Linked DNA regions of Homo sapiens. The protein of the gene in region 1 interacts with the protein of each later gene in a pairwise test. Each region holds a gene or a part of one and is shown in the gene's direction. Other genes may lie near its edges.

What was found. Proteins that work in one complex are often made in the same cells at the same time.
Region 2: the proteins of EIF2S3 (region 1) and ZNF829 interact in binary tests that used the Homo sapiens proteins (3 or more experiments, as listed by UniProt).

The regions. Positions count from the first base shown.
Region 1 is NC_000023.11:24,064,709-24,072,128, forward strand, and holds part of EIF2S3 (eukaryotic translation initiation factor 2 subunit 3), read left to right. Parts: intron 1-1,289; coding exon 1,290-1,384; intron 1,385-3,255; coding exon 3,256-3,400; intron 3,401-6,849; coding exon 6,850-7,019; intron 7,020-7,420. UniProt on the Homo sapiens protein: Member of the eIF2 complex that functions in the early steps of protein synthesis by forming a ternary complex with GTP and initiator tRNA.
Region 2 is NC_000019.10:36,913,024-36,921,283, reverse strand, and holds the start of ZNF829 (zinc finger protein 829), read left to right. Parts: upstream 1-4,992; 5' UTR 4,993-5,273; exon of another isoform or gene 5,274-5,329; coding exon of another isoform or gene 5,330-5,488; intron 5,489-6,032; coding exon of another isoform or gene 6,033-6,116; coding exon 6,117-6,154; intron 6,155-6,261; coding exon 6,262-6,319; intron 6,320-8,260. UniProt on the Homo sapiens protein: May be involved in transcriptional regulation.

The DNA.
Region 1 (7,420 bases):
ATCCCAGCTACTCGGGAGGCTGAGGCAGGAGAATGGCGCGAACCCGGGAAGCGGAGGTTGCAATGAGCTGAGATCGCGCCATTGTACTCCAGCCTGGGCAACAAGAGTGAAACTGCGTCTCAAAAAAACCCAAAAACAACTGCTAACCTTTCTGTGCTTAATATATGGTACATGATCAAGATGGAGTAATACAGTATTCTCCATGGAATCATAATGTTTTAGGGTGTTAGAACTTCCTGACTAAAACATTTACAGATGATTTTGTTGTTCAATTAACGAAGAACTGATACTGGTATAATTTGATCACCTAGGCTTGTGGTTCCTACACGGGGATGTAGTAGCCTTCTCGAAACAGACATTTGAGCTCCTCTGGCTTTCATCCGAGCTTCTGGTGTTTAGTAGGAAATAGTCTCCGAAGTGCAGGTCATGTAGTCCTAGTGTTTTATAGTTATAAAGCTGAATTGTTCTTACAGGAGTTACAGAGGTCTATAAAGAAAATGTCCATAATCTCTCTGTCTTCAAGTTCTAGTTCCTTAGCCCTAAAGTCAGCAAAGTTAACATTTGGTGTCCATTATTCCCACACTTTTCTCTTTGTTCATATCATCGTGTATAAACATATACACAGGCTGGGCATGGTGGCTTTCACCTGTAATCCCAGCACTTTGGGAGGCTGACGCTGAGGTGAGAGGATTGCTTGAGGCTAGGAGTTCAGGACCATCCTGGGCATTAAGGGAAGACCCCATTTCTACAAAAAATAAAATATTACAGCTGGGTGCAGTGGTGTGTACCTGTAGTCCGAGCTACTCGGTAGGCTGAGGCAGGAAGATTGAGCCCAGGAATTTGAGGCTGCAGTGAGCTATGATTGTGCCACTGCACTCCAGCCTCTATGATAGAGGGAAAAAAAAATCCATATACAGACATTGATTATTTTATTTTTCTTTATGGAAGTGGGATTATATTATGCGTGTAATTTTTATAACTTTTCTTAACAGTATGTGAGGGTCATCCTTCCAGATCATTACATATAGCTCTAACATTGTTAATAGCTGCGTGATGCTCTATAATACTGGTATACCCTATATGCCACTTATTAATAAACTTAAGTTACTTTCATTTTTTCCATCATAAGTAAGACTGCTTAATCATTGGAATAATAATAGATTTTGTTAAAAAGGCACCCCTTTGGTATAAATCTCAAATGGCCACTATTTTAGAAACATTAACATGGAAAATAATATTTCTTCTAAAGTTAAGATTAACAGAACTGACTTTAATTTGTTTTATTTTAGTTATTAGATCTTTTGATGTCAACAAACCTGGCTGTGAAGTTGATGACCTTAAGGGAGGTGTAGCTGGTGGTAGTATCCTAAAAGGAGTATTAAAGGTAAAATGGGTTTTGGTTGTTGTGATTTTGGGTTTTTTTTTTTTGTTGTTTGTTTGTTTGTTTTATCCTTGTCTTAATCAGGAAAAAAAGTATGGACAATCCAAATTGAAAAATAAAATTTTTTCCATGGTTTCTGGTATTTGATGTAGAGTTCTCTTTTTTAATATTCTTTTTTTCTCTCTTCAAACTTCACTCCTCCCACCCTTCTAGACCTCTGAATCCACAATCTACCTTCATGAGATCCACCTTTTTAGCTTCCACATATACAGATGAGTGAGAATGTGTGATATTTGTCTTTTTGTGCCTGGCTTATTTTACTTAACAAAATGGCCTCCAATTCTAGATGTGCTGCTGCAAATGGCAGAATTTTTTTTTATGGCTGCATAATACTTCATTGCATATATATATATGCTGCCATTGCTTTTCTTTTCTTTTTTTTTTTTTTCTTGAGGCGGAGTCTTGCTGTTTCGCCCAAGCTGGAGCGATCTCAGCTCACTGCAACCTTCACCTCCTGGGTTCAAGCGATTCTCCCTGCCCCAGCCTCCCAAGTAGCTGGGATTACAAGCACCCCCCACCATGCCCAGCTAATTTTTGTATTTGTAGTAAAGACAGGGTTTCACCATGTTGGCCAGGCTGGTCTTGAACTCCTTACCTCAAGTGATCCACCCGCCTCGGCCTCCCAAAGTGTTGGGATTATAGGCGTGAGCCACTTTGCCCGGCCTATATACTGCATTTTCTTTATCCATTCATCTGTTCATGGGCACTTAGGTTGATTCCATGTTTGGCTATTGTGAACTGTGCTACAATAAACATGGGAGTGCAGATACCTCTTTGATAATATTGCTTCCCTTTCTGGTGAATGTATACCCACTAGTGAAACTGATGGATCATATGGTAGCTGTATTTTCAGGTTTTCAAGGAACCTCCATACTGTTCTCCATGGTAGCTATACTAATTTACATGCTCTGATAATAGTTTTTTTTTTGTTTTGTTTTTTGAGCACAGTGGCATGATCTTGACTCACTGCAACCTCCACCTCCTGGGTTCAGGTGATGATTCTCCTGCCACAGCCTCCCGACTTGCTGGGGCTACAGGCACTCGCAACCTCGCCCAGCTAATTTTTTTGGTAGAGATGGGGTTTTGCCATATTGGCCAGGCTGGTCTCTTAACTCCTGACCTCAGGTGATCTGCCTGCCTCAGCCTCCCAAAGTGCTGGGATTACAGGCATAAGCCACCACGCCCAGCTATATTTCTTTGTTTTCTGTTATGTCTTTTGAATGTGTCTGACTTGAAAATTTATAGACTTGTAAGTATGGAGCACATTTGATGTGGTAATAGACTTGTGTGGTGGGTAGTTAACAACAGTTGGATGGTTCTGGTTTTGACAGTCTCGTTCACATCTTTTTTTTTTTTTTTTTTTAAGAATAATGATCTTTGAAATACAGGAATGATTGCCTTTTCAGTTTTATGGTCTTCCGGTTGGACCTTTATTATTATTTTATTTTATTTTATTTTTGAGACAGAGTCTCTCTTTGTCACCCAGGCTGGAGTGCAGTGGTGCGATCTCGGTTCACTGCAACCTCTGCCTCCCAGGTTCTAGCAATTCTGCCGCAGCCTCCTGAGTAGCAGGGATTACAGGTGCGTGCCACCACACCTGGCTAATTTTTGTGTTTTTAGTAGAGACGGGGTTTCACTATGTTGGCTGGGCTGGTCTCGAACTCCTGACCTCAGGTGATCCACCCGCCTCGGCCTCCCAAAATGCTAGGATTACACATGTGAGCCACCGCACCCAGTCCCTGTTGGAACTTTTGATAGGTAAATGATAATTTTGCGTAACACAGTAATTCTAATTACTAATTATATGTTTACAGGTGGGCCAGGAGATAGAAGTAAGACCTGGTATTGTTTCCAAAGATAGTGAAGGAAAACTCATGTGTAAACCAATCTTTTCCAAAATTGTATCACTTTTTGCGGAGCATAATGATCTGCAATATGCTGCTCCAGGCGGTCTTATTGGTAAGGATTTTTTTCTCATCTCTTTTAATTTGTGGCTATTTGTGGTACTTTTCATGGGGGATGGATTACCAAAAGGGACATATTACAGATTTTTAATTGGGTATTTTAATAATAGAGTAGGGTGGGGAACAATCATGTGGTTAAGCTCTTGTTTTAGGTTATAAGATGGTTTCATGGGTTTGTAAAAATTATTTTTAAACACAAAGGATACATTTTGATCAAATATAGAGTAACTCCTTTTTAGCAATATAAAAAAATAAATTTGATGACTTATCATGTAAGATATTTACCTACACTTATGTTTTTGTTAACATGATTTTTGTGCTAGATAATGGTTGCCTTTTTTTTTTTTGGGAGATGGAGTCTCGCTGTGTCCTCCAGGCTGGAGTGCAGTGGTGCAATCTTGGCTCACTGCAGCCTCTGCCTCCCAGGTTCAAGCAATTCTTATGCCTCAGCCTCCCGAGTAGCTGGGACTACAGGCACATGCTGCCAGGCCCAGCTAAGATTTTTGTATTTTAGTAGAGACGGGGTTTCACCGTGTTGCCCAGGCTGGTCTTGAACTCCTGAGCTCAGGCAGTCCCCCTGCCTCGGCCTTTCAAAGTGCTAGGATTACAGGCGTGAACCACCATGCCCGGCCATGGTTGCTTTTATGTATATTTTGCAAATGGAAAATTACCTACAAATGTCAGTTGAATGATATCAGGTCGTATTTCCAATGAGGTAGAAATAAAAGAAAGTAAATTTCTTTGTGTAGCAATTACTGAAGTGATTTAAAAACTTTTCTAGTCCCTTACAACTTAGTGTATTACTCAATACCCAGAAAAATGAAAGATTCAGTGAGAATTAGAAGGGGTGTTGTACCTTTAGATTAAAGAAGAAAATGTTTGGTAAAGAAACAGTTAATTCTTCACCCAATAAGTTGTGTCTCTGGTTGAAAATTTTAAAAAGGAAATAAAAGAAAACAAAAAAATGAAAAAGAGTTTACCAGGTTGGCTGGGCGCAGTGTCTCATGCCTGTGATCCCAGCAATTTGGGAGGCTGAGGTGGGTGGATCGCTTGAGCTCAGGAGTTTGAGACCAGCCTGGGCAACATGGTAAAACCTTGTCTCTACTAAAAATACAAAAGTTAGCTGGGTGTGGTGGCCCACGCCTGTAATCCCGGCTACTCGGGAGGCTGAGGCATGAGAATCGCTTGAACCCAGAAGGCGGAGGGTGAGCCGAGATCACACCAGTGCACTCCAGCCTGGGTGACAGAGTGACACTCTGTCTCAAAAAAAAAAAAAAAACAAGAAGAAAAGAAAAGAAAAAATGAATTTACCAGGTTGGGTATGGTGGCTCATGCTCATAATTCCAGTGCTTTGGGAAGCTGAGGTGGGAAGATTGCTTGAGACCAGGAGTTTGAGACCAGCCTAGGAAACCATGAGATGCCATTTCTCCAATAAAATAGTAAGATTAGCTGGGTTTGGTGGTGTGTGCCTGTAGTTCCATCTATCATTTTATCTTTTGTGTGCATGTGTGTGGTAAACAAGGGAAATCTGGAAACTTTTTAAAAATTTAACTTAAGGAACTTTTTTAATTTCTTTTTTTTTTTTTTTTTTTTTTGAGGCAGAGTCTCATTCTGCCACCCAGGCTGGAGTGCAGTAGTATTATCTCGGCTCGCTGCAACCTTTGCCTCCTGGGTTCAGTTAATTCTCCTGCCTCAGCCTCCCGAGTAGCTGGAACTATAGGCACATACCACCACAGCCAGCTAATTTTTGTATTTTTAGTAGAGATGGGGTTTCGCCATGTTGGCCAGGCTGGTCTCGAACTTCTGGTCTTAAGTGATCTGCCCTCCTTGGCCTCCCAAAATACTGGGATTACAGGCGTGAGCCACCACACTTGGCCTAAGGAACTCTTTAAACATAGGATAGAATACTGTAATGATAACCCCCATAGAGCCATCACTCAGCTTCAGCAATTATTAATGTTTTACCAGTCTTGGCTGGGCGTGGTGGCTCATGTCTGTATTCCCAGCACTTCGGGAGGCCGAGGTGGACGGATCACCTGAGGTCAGGAGTTCGAAAAACCCTGTCTCTACTAAAAATACAAAAAAAAAAAAAAATTTAGTCAGGTGTGGTGGCACATGCCTGTAATCCCAGCCTGTAATCCCAGGTCACAGTGAGCCGAGATCACACCACTGCACTCCAGCCTGGGCGACAGAGACTGTGTCTCAACAACAGCAGCAAAAAAAAGTTTTCCCAATCAATCTTGCTCCATCTATATATCTTCTTTCCCCTACTCCCCTCAAGACACAGCTAGAATATTTTGAAGTAGATCCCAGGAATCATATGTAGTTTTTTTTTTTTTTTTTTTTTTTGAGAGTCTCACTCTGTCGCCCAGGCTGGAGTGCAGTGGCACGATCTCGGCTCACTGCAACCTCTGCCTCCCAGGTTCAAGTGATTCTCCTGCGTTAGCCTCTCGAGTAGCTGGGATTATAGGTGTCTGCCACCATGCCCAGCTATTGTATTTTTAGTAGAGATTGGGTTTTGCCATGTTGGCTAGACTTGTCTTGAACTCCTGACCTTAGGTAATCCTCCAACTTGGGCCTCCCCAAGTGCTGGGATTATAAGTGTGAGCCACTGCGCCTGGCCCATATGTAGTCTTTAACTATCTTTTCAATCAGTCTTTCAGGGGAGAAATGGCATGCAGGTATTCTGCAAACTACTCATTTTGAATTTTGTATTCTTTCGGTCTTTGTTAAGGATATTCGGACTCATTTTGAGTTCACTTATTATCTCTATTTGCCCTTTGTTTAGAATTTATTGTTTTCAAGACCAGGTCAGTAATACTTACCATCTCCTGCATTAAGTTCTCAGCCAAGCCATCATTCCTAGAAAATCAGATTTCTAAACCCTTTGTTTAGAATTTAAATCAAGAGAATCGTTCTGTTCTCATTTGCCCAGTCATCTCATGAGTGTATATTTCTATTTGTCTAGATAAAACAGGTATTTTCTTGTACCTATATAGCTATTATATGAGTATAAAAATAAAAGTATGAAAGTGTGTAGGTATATGCTGTGCTTATATGGCTTTGGGGTATCTAATTCACTTTTTTTTTTTTTGGAGACAGAGTCTCACTCTGTCACCCAGGTTGGAGTGCAGTGGTGCGATCTCGGCTCACTACAACCTCTGCCTCCTGGGTTCAAGTGATTCTCCTGCCTCAGCCTCCCAAGTAGCTGAGACTACAGGTGCACGCCGCCACGCCTGGCTAATTTTTTGTATTTTAATAGAGACAGGGTTTCACCGTGTTGCCCAGGCTGGTCTTTAACTCCTGAGCTCAGGCATCCACCTGCCTCGGCCTCCCAAAGTGCTGGGATTACAGGTGTGAGCCACTGCACCTGGCCAACTAATTCACTTTATAGGTGTTTTAGGAAATAAAAAATTGAGCTATATACATCTTATTTTTATATAGGAGTTGGAACAAAAATTGACCCCACTTTGTGCCGGGCTGACAGAATGGTGGGGCAAGTACTTGGTGCAGTCGGAGCTTTACCTGAGATATTCACAGAATTGGAAATTTCCTATTTCCTGCTTAGACGGCTTCTAGGTGTACGCACTGAAGGAGACAAGAAAGCAGCAAAGGTAAATGCTTTTTTAAAAATTCCTGTTTCTAAAAAAGTGACAAATGGGAGTGTTAAACCAGTGTTGAGTTTTATTGTTTTACAGTTAACATGAAATTAAGAAAAAAAGAAAAGGTAAATAAATTTGACCTCCCCAAAATTGAGGGTTTTTTTTTTTTTAATTTAGAGATGGAGTCTCTCGCTCTGTTGCCCAGGCTGGAGTGCAGTGGCGCGATCTCGGCTCACGGCAACCTCCACCTCCTGGGTTCAAGCAATTCTCTTGCCTCGGTTTCCCAAGTATATGGGACTACAGGCACGCACCAGCACGCCCAGCTAATTTTTGTATATTTTAGTAGAGATGGGGTTTCACTATATGTTAGCCAGGCTGGACTTGACCTCCTGACCTCAAGTGATCCGCCCGCC
Region 2 (8,260 bases), on another chromosome or scaffold:
CTCCATGTTGGTCAGGCTGTTCTTGAACTCCTGACCTCAGGTGATCTGCTGGCCTCAGCCTCTCAAAGTGCTGGGATTACAGGCATAAGCCACCATGCTTGGCCGACAGTGATCACTTTCTAACAAACTATTAATATATACAGTCACGCATCACTTTGCAACAGAGATATGCTCTGAGAAATGTGTCATTAGGCAATTTCATCATTGTGCAAATATAAGTGTACTTACACAAATGTGGATGGTATAGCCTACTACCCACCTATGCTATATGGTATAGCCTATTGCTCCTAGGCTACGAACCTGTATGGCATGTTACTGTACTGAATACTGTAGACAACTGCAATACAAAGGTAGGTGTTTGTATATCTAAACATACCTAAACACAGGAGAGAAATGGTAAAAATATAATATAAAAGATAAAAAATGGTACACTGGTAAAGGGCACTTACCATGAATGAAACTTGCAGAACTGGAAGTTGCTCTGAGTGAGTGGCGAGTGAACGCAAAGGCCTAGGACACTACTGTACACTACTGTAGACTTTATAAACACTGTACACTTAGGCTACACTAAATTTATAAAATTTTTATTTCTTCAAATTGTTGAATTAGCCTTAGCTTACTATAACTTTGTTACTTTATAAGCTTTTCATTTTTTTTTTTTTTTAGATGGAGTCTCACTCTGTCACCCAGGCTGGAGTAATGGCACCATCTTGGCTAACTGCAACCTAAGCCTCCTGGGTTCAAGTGATTCTCCTGCCTCAGCCTCCCAAGTAGCTGGGATTACAGGTGTCTGCCACCACACCCGGCTAATTTTTGTATTTTTAGTAGAGACGGGGTTTCACCATGTTGGTCAGCCTGGTCTCTAACTCTTGACCTCCTGTAATCCACCCGCCTCGGCCTCCCAAAGTGCTGGGATTATAGGGGTGAGCCACTGTGTCCAGCCAGCTTTTCAATTTTTTAAAACTTTTTGACTCTTGTAGTAGCACATAGCTTAAAATGCATTGTACAGCTGTACAAAAATATTTTTTCTTTATATCCTTATTCTATAAGCTATCTTCTTAAAAATTTTTTAACTTTTTAAACTTTCTTGTTAAAAATTAAGACACAAACACCCATTAGCCTAGGCCTACACAGTGTCCAGGATCATTGGTGCTGGCTTTCACCTCCACATCTGGCCCCACTGGAAGATCTTCAGGGACAATAACACACACAGAGCTATCACATTCTATGATAACAATGCCTTCTTCTGGAATACCTCCTGAAGGACCTGAGGCTGTTTTACAGTTAACTTTTTTTAAATAAATAGGCATATGCTCCAAAGTAATGATAAAAAGTATAGTATAGTAGGCACATGAACCAGTAACATATTTATTATCATTACCAAGTATTATGTACTGTACATAATTTTATGTTATACTTTTATATGACTGGCAGCAGAGTAGGTTTGTTTACAGCAGCATCACTGCAAACACATGAGTAATGGTATTGTGCTACAGTGTTATATTGGCTAGAAAGTCACTAGGTGACAGGAATTTTTCAGCTCCATTATAATCTTACAGCAGGGGTCCTCAACCCCTGGGCCACGTACCGGTACTGGTACAGTACTGGTTCCTGGTTAGGAACCAGGCCACACAGCAGGAAGTGAGCAGCAGGTGAGTGAGCATTACCGCCTGAGCTCCACCTTCTATCAGATTAGTGGTGGCATTACAGCCTTACAGGAGTGTGAACCCTCTTCTGAACTGTGCATGCGAGGGATATAGGTTGCTTGCTCCTTATAGGAATCTAATGCCTCATGATTTGAGGGACAACAGTTTCATCCTGAAACCATAACCCTCCCATCCCCCAGTCCCTGGAAAAATTGTCTTCCACAAAACCACTCCCTGGTGCCAAAAAGGCTGGGGACCACTGTCTTACAGGACCACTGTCATGTATGTATATAGTCCATACATATATGGCACATGACTATAATTTAGTTATATATACTGTCCACCCACCCCCCTCAACATAAACTCCATGAAAACAAGGACTTATTTTTGTCTGTTTTTGATATTCATAGTAGGTGCTCAAAAATATGCTGATAAAATGGTTCAGTCATTATCGAAAACACTATGACAATCAAAGATTAAAAACAGACATTACCACATGTATATATAAAAAACTGAAAGCAGGGACTCAGATAGTTGTATACCCATGTTTGTAGCAGTGTCACTTGCAATTGCCAAAAGGTAGAAGCAGCCCAAGTGTCCAATGATGAATAAATTGATAAACAAAATATTTATCCATATATGACATACTTATCATTCGGCCTTAAAAAAGGAGGAAATTCCAATACATGCTAACATGGATGAATCTTGAGGACGTTATGCTAAGTTAAATCAGGGTCACAAAAGCACAAACAACATATGATTCTGCTTATATGAAGTATTTAGAATAGTCAAATTCAGAGACAGAAAGTAGAATGGTAGATGCCATAGGCCGGGGGAAAGGGGGGTACAGAGTTATTGTTTGATAGGTACTGGGTTTCTGTTTTGCAAGAAGAAGAGTTCTCTGGCTGGATGGTGGTGACGGTACCATAACAATGTGAATGTACTTCATGCCACTGAACTGTACACTTATATATGGTTTAGATGGTAAATTCTATGTTGTGTATTTTACCACAATTAAATATACATGTGTGTATACATAGTTGGTCCTCCTTATCCACAGGTTCTGCATCCTCAGATTCAATCAGCCTCAGATAAAAAATACAGTTAGGCCTACTACAGTTGTGTCTGTACTGAACACGTACAGTACAGATTTTTTTCTCATTATTCCCTAAACAATAACGTGTAACAATGATTTACACAGCATTTACATTATATTAGGTATTACAAATAATCTAGAGATGATTTAATGTATAAAGAAGGATGTAGGGACTTGAGCATCTGTGGATTCTGGTATCCATGGGGGGTCTTGAAACCAACCCCTCCTGGATACGAACTGTATATAGAATAAATGAGCTACTACTACTAATTTGGGGATTTAAAACTAGAAGAGAATAGGCTGGGCATGGTGGCTTACGCCTGTAATCCCAGCACTTTGGGAGGCTGAGGTCGGCAAATCACGAGGTCAGGAGATCTACCATGGTGGCTAACATGGTGAAACCCTGTCTCTGCTAAAAATACAAAAAATCAGCCGGGCGTGGTGGCGCGTCTGTAGTCCCAGCTACTCGGGAGGCTGAGGCAGGAGAATCGCTTGAACTCGGGAGGCGGAGTTTGCAGTGAGCCGAGACCGTGCCACTGCACTCCAGCCTGGGTGACAGAGCGAGACTCCGTCTCAAAAAAACAAAACAAAACAACAACAACAACAAAAACTAGAAGAAAATAATATATGAGACAAGAATAACACAGAAATTGGTGGATATTTTGGAGTTCAAGTATTTTAAAGTCTTAAGGTTGAGTTTTGTTAAGCATGCATATTAAAAAAGGATAATAGCAGAAACCAACCTAGGGGAGAAAAAGGGATAAGGTGAATTTGCACAATAAAAAAAGATATATGTGCAACTATTATATGTCAATCAAAAATGTTTAAGGCGTAATAGAAAATAAAACATTTTTTATGAGCAATCATGATAAATGCCACTGAACTATACTCACCTATTAAAATAACAGTCAAACAAGATAAACGGATGTAAGCCCAGCAATATGCTCTTTACAAGACACAGATCTGAAACATAAAGACACAAGGGGGTTAGAAAATGAAATTCTTAAGAAATACAATAAAACTTGAAAAGCAATATTATCAGACAAAAGAGAACCCGGACTAAAAGGCATTCACCAGGATAAAGAGGTATGTTTCTTAAGGTGGTAGACTGGAATTTTAGTCCAATTCCTCACACCCTCTAATAGATTATTATTCATACTCTTTGCGAGGTAACTTTGCTCTCCAACTGTGGGCATAATTGATTTTAGGCTTAGCCATGTGACTTGCTCTGGTTGAGGCAATCTCTCTTGCGCTCTGGTGACCCATCAGGAGCAGAGCATGCCCTGGCAACAAATGTCCTTTTGGCCTGAGACCCTGAAAGAACACATGCGGCGCAGATCTTAACTCGTCACGCAGCCTATCCACTCAGCCAAGCCCCACCTAGATCAGCTGAACACAGTCAATGCGCAAGCCTGTGAACAGGAGAGTAAGGACTTGCTGTTGTATGGCATTGAGTTCAGGGGTGGTTTTTAGACATAATTATTATCATGGCAATAGCTAACTAACATACATAAAAGCAGCAAGTCATAAGATAATAATGAACCTGAAAAGTTCGCCAAGGAATAGTGGAAAATTACAAAGGGCCAAGGGCTACTAGGGTAAAAAAGACAGCAAAGAAGACTACAGAGGAGTGGCCAACAAGGAGGGAGGATCAGTAGAAAACAAATAAGTGTTTTTCAAGCCGTTACCAACTGTGCCAAATGCTACAGAAAAGCCAGCTCAAGACAAGAACTACTAGACATATTACAATCACGCACACTTCGCCACGTTCACACTCGCTACAGCCTTAATCATAATCACACACATATCACACATTTCATCATAATCCCGCGCAACCAAATATCACAATCACCCCATCAGATTATTCGTGCCGTCACACTCACACACACAACCACACACCCACACTAACTCCCATCACAGTTTTTTGTCCCATCAACTGCAACCACTCACCATTAGCGTACCCTGAGCACTCCCCACTGCCGCTACTCGGGACACTCTGGGCCTTAGAGGATCCGTGTCCCGTCAACCGCGAGTCCCTTGCTCGCCCCCTGCTGCGGGGACTCGGCAGCGTCACCTGCCGGAAACACCCGAATGTTCATCCCGCGCGCAGTTTCTGAGATGCTGGGTGAAGGCGACCCGCAGATAGGTCTGTGACAGACGCCTAAAGCGCCGAACCATCCCTCCGCGCCAGCGACGTTTCCGAGGACAACACCTCCCAGCAGGCCCCGCGGCCCCACTCAACTTCCGGCCAGAACACATCTGCTTTCCTGTGTGAGGGTGAGGCTTGGGCCGGGTTCCCCGGGAGGCTCATCTCCATTGCGCAGCGCTACGGCGACCCGCAACTCCGAGGCTCGGCTGGATGTTGAGAGTTGAGGGAGCAGCCGTTTCGGGTGGGCCCAGGCGAGGAGCTGACAGGAATCGGCGTGGGTCCCGCTCTGGACTACATTTCCCAGAGGGCCTGGTGGCCTGCCACTTTTCTCGCAGGAATTCGAACGTTTCGTCACTCCTGGCGGGACCCTTAGATCTGGGAGGTGAGATATTTTGGTCCCCAGGAGAACTGGCTCAGGTCTGCAAGTTCCCATCCGGGATGACTGGAAAGGGCTTAGGTGAGGATACCGAAGACCGATGGGGAGCTGGCGCCTTGGGCCCCTGCGGGCGGAGCGGCCTGAAAGGTGGAGGTTGTGTTTGGGAGGCCGAGGCAGGAGGATCACGAGGTCAAGAGATCGAGACCATCCTGGCCAACATGGTGAAACCCCATCTCTACTAAAAATACAAAAATTAGCTAGGCATGGTGGCGCGCGCCTGTAATCCCAGCTACTCGCAGGCTGAGGCAGGAGAATCACTTGAACCCGGGAGGCGGAGGTTGCAGTGAGCCGAGATCGCACCACTGCACTCCAGCCTGGCGACAGGGCAAGACTCTGTCCCCACCCCACCCCACCCCCCCAAAAAAAGAGGGGAGGTTGTGAAATTGTCTGGGAGATAATAACACTGCGGCTTATGTGCGGATATGGGATACCTGTCACTGTGGGGGTTGTGGCTGTGTGTTCCCGTGGTGATGTGTGATTGTGACTCTGCGACAGTGTGGGGTGCCTACGATTGTGCAGCTGTAATTGTGTGTTTCCTATGGTGTGTATGTGATTGTAACTGTGTTGCCGTGTGTGGCTCCTTGTGGGCAGGTGAGACGTGCATGTCGCCTTAAGTGTGACTGTCCCTAAATGTATGTGGCATTCTGTGTATGAGTATGGGGTCCTGTCAACTATGCGATTGTGACTCCAGAACTCTGTCTCTAGGAAACCTCTCTGAGGTCTGGTCAGATTCCAACCCTGGACAGCAGTGAACACAACCTTTCCCCTGAGCCACTGGAATTGGACAGAATGCCCCATTCTCCTCTGATCTCCATTCCTCATGTGTGGTGGGTAATGGGGCTGGGGAAGAACTCTTACTTGACTAATCTGGGTACCAAGAAAAACCTGGTGTCTCACAGTTACTCTTCCCTCTCCCAATTTTACCTTTCTCCAGGTGTCACCCAGAAGAGGAGGAAAGAATGCATGATGAACTTCTACAAGCAGTATCCAAGGTGTGTTGGGGTTTCCTCTTTTTCTTCTGAAAATTCTTGCTTAAAGGAATGTCATTTAATTATAGGTCCCTATAATTTTCCCATCACAGAAAAGGATGGTTGCTCCACTTATGCTTGCTGAATTTTCTTCTCAAATATTTATTCTGATTTAAAAATAAAAGGATGATTAATTTAGAGATCTCAAAAACACAGCATTACCAAGAAAAAATAAAATTTAGCCACTCAGATAACTAGGGTTAATATTTTAATGTATTTTCATTATTTGTCAAAAACCAAATTTTATTTCATTTACCATTTGATGTTCTACATTTTTGCAAAAAGAAGTGTCAGAAATATTCTCCCATGTCATCAAATGGTCTTGGGAAATACATTTTTGATGTTTGCAAAAACTATGATATACAAATCAGACATGCCAGACTTTTAAATCCTCATTTGAATATATATCTGTACTTATACCCGCCCACCCCCACAGGTTTGAATTTGGGTTTCCGTGATTAATAATAAAATTGAACATATTCCATATGTTTATTGGTTTTTAGTCATCTTTTGTGACATGTCAGTTCAAATCTTTACTCATTTTTCTCTTGGAATAGCTCTTATTGATTCGTATGAGTTATTTATGTAATCTGGATCTCAGTCCTTTATTGATTGTTTTCCTACTATTTGGACTATTTCATCATTTCCTGTAAGATGATTTTATGATAAGTTCTAATTTTTAAAAAGCTGAGTTTATCAATATTTTTTCTTTATGGTTAGTGCTTTTTGTATCTTTTTAAATAAATCCTTCCCTGTCCCAAGGTCATGCAGATACTCTCCTATATTTATGCTTAAAGCCATAAGTTTCACTTTCATGTTTAGATATTTTATATAGTTGCAACTGGTTTTTGTATATGTTATGAGGTAAGAGTCAGATTCCCCCCTCCTTATTAATACCCAGTTTATCAATACCATATATTGGAAGGTCTATTGTGTTCTCATTGGTCTTCAAATATACCTAGTGTCTATATGTGCATGGGTATGTTTATGAACTCTTTATTCTCTTCCACTGATTTTTTATATTCCTGTGCCAGTATCATACAGTCTTGATTAGCTCGTCTCCCTTGATGGTAATCTGCCTTGTCTTCCTCTGACTGTTTTGTTTTTGGCTTTCTGTAATTTTAGTGTAAGATATATAAATGTGTTTTATTTGTCTGCTTGGGATTTGTAGAGTTTTAAAATTTATGGATGGATATCTATTATTAGTTCAGGAAAATCTTCAGTCATTATACCTTCAAAAAGCCCCCGTATCATTCTCTCCCCCTTTCCTTCTCAGGTTCTAACTAAACATATGTTAGAATTTCTTCTTCTTTTCTGTGTCTTATCTCTTTTTGGTTTTTAGAGTTGATACTTATAGCTGAAATCAAAGCAAACAAAAGAACCTTGCCTCATCTCAGGAGGGGGCAGTGGGCATGGCAGGCAATTACAGAGTTTTTGGATTCTTCCTCCAAGTAATAATAAAAATATCTTTATTCAGTTTGTGTTTCAACACTTCTAATCTTGGGGAACTCACTAAATTGTAAGGTTATCCATTCACCAGGTAATCATTTTATCTGAAAATTAGAGGATACATACTAGGATAGAGGACTCAGAATAGTGACAATGTTTTCTCAAGGTGTAAATTTGGAACTCTGAGTGGGCCTACTCTCAATTTTTAAATTGTATGTGTTTGGTACAGATGCAGAGAAAATCAGGATAAGAATAAGTCTAACTAAGTATTTTGTGTAAGGCCTTTCTATCTGAATTTCTTTTAAAGAGGACTGAGTCTTCCCTCTCCTGTGCCAAAGCCCAAATAGAATATCTGCTTCCCCTCTTGCATCAGTCTCTAGTTACACTTCTCATTTCTATAGAGAAGATTGTTGCCCAGTATTAACGGGAATAACTAGGGACATGTAGTATACTGTA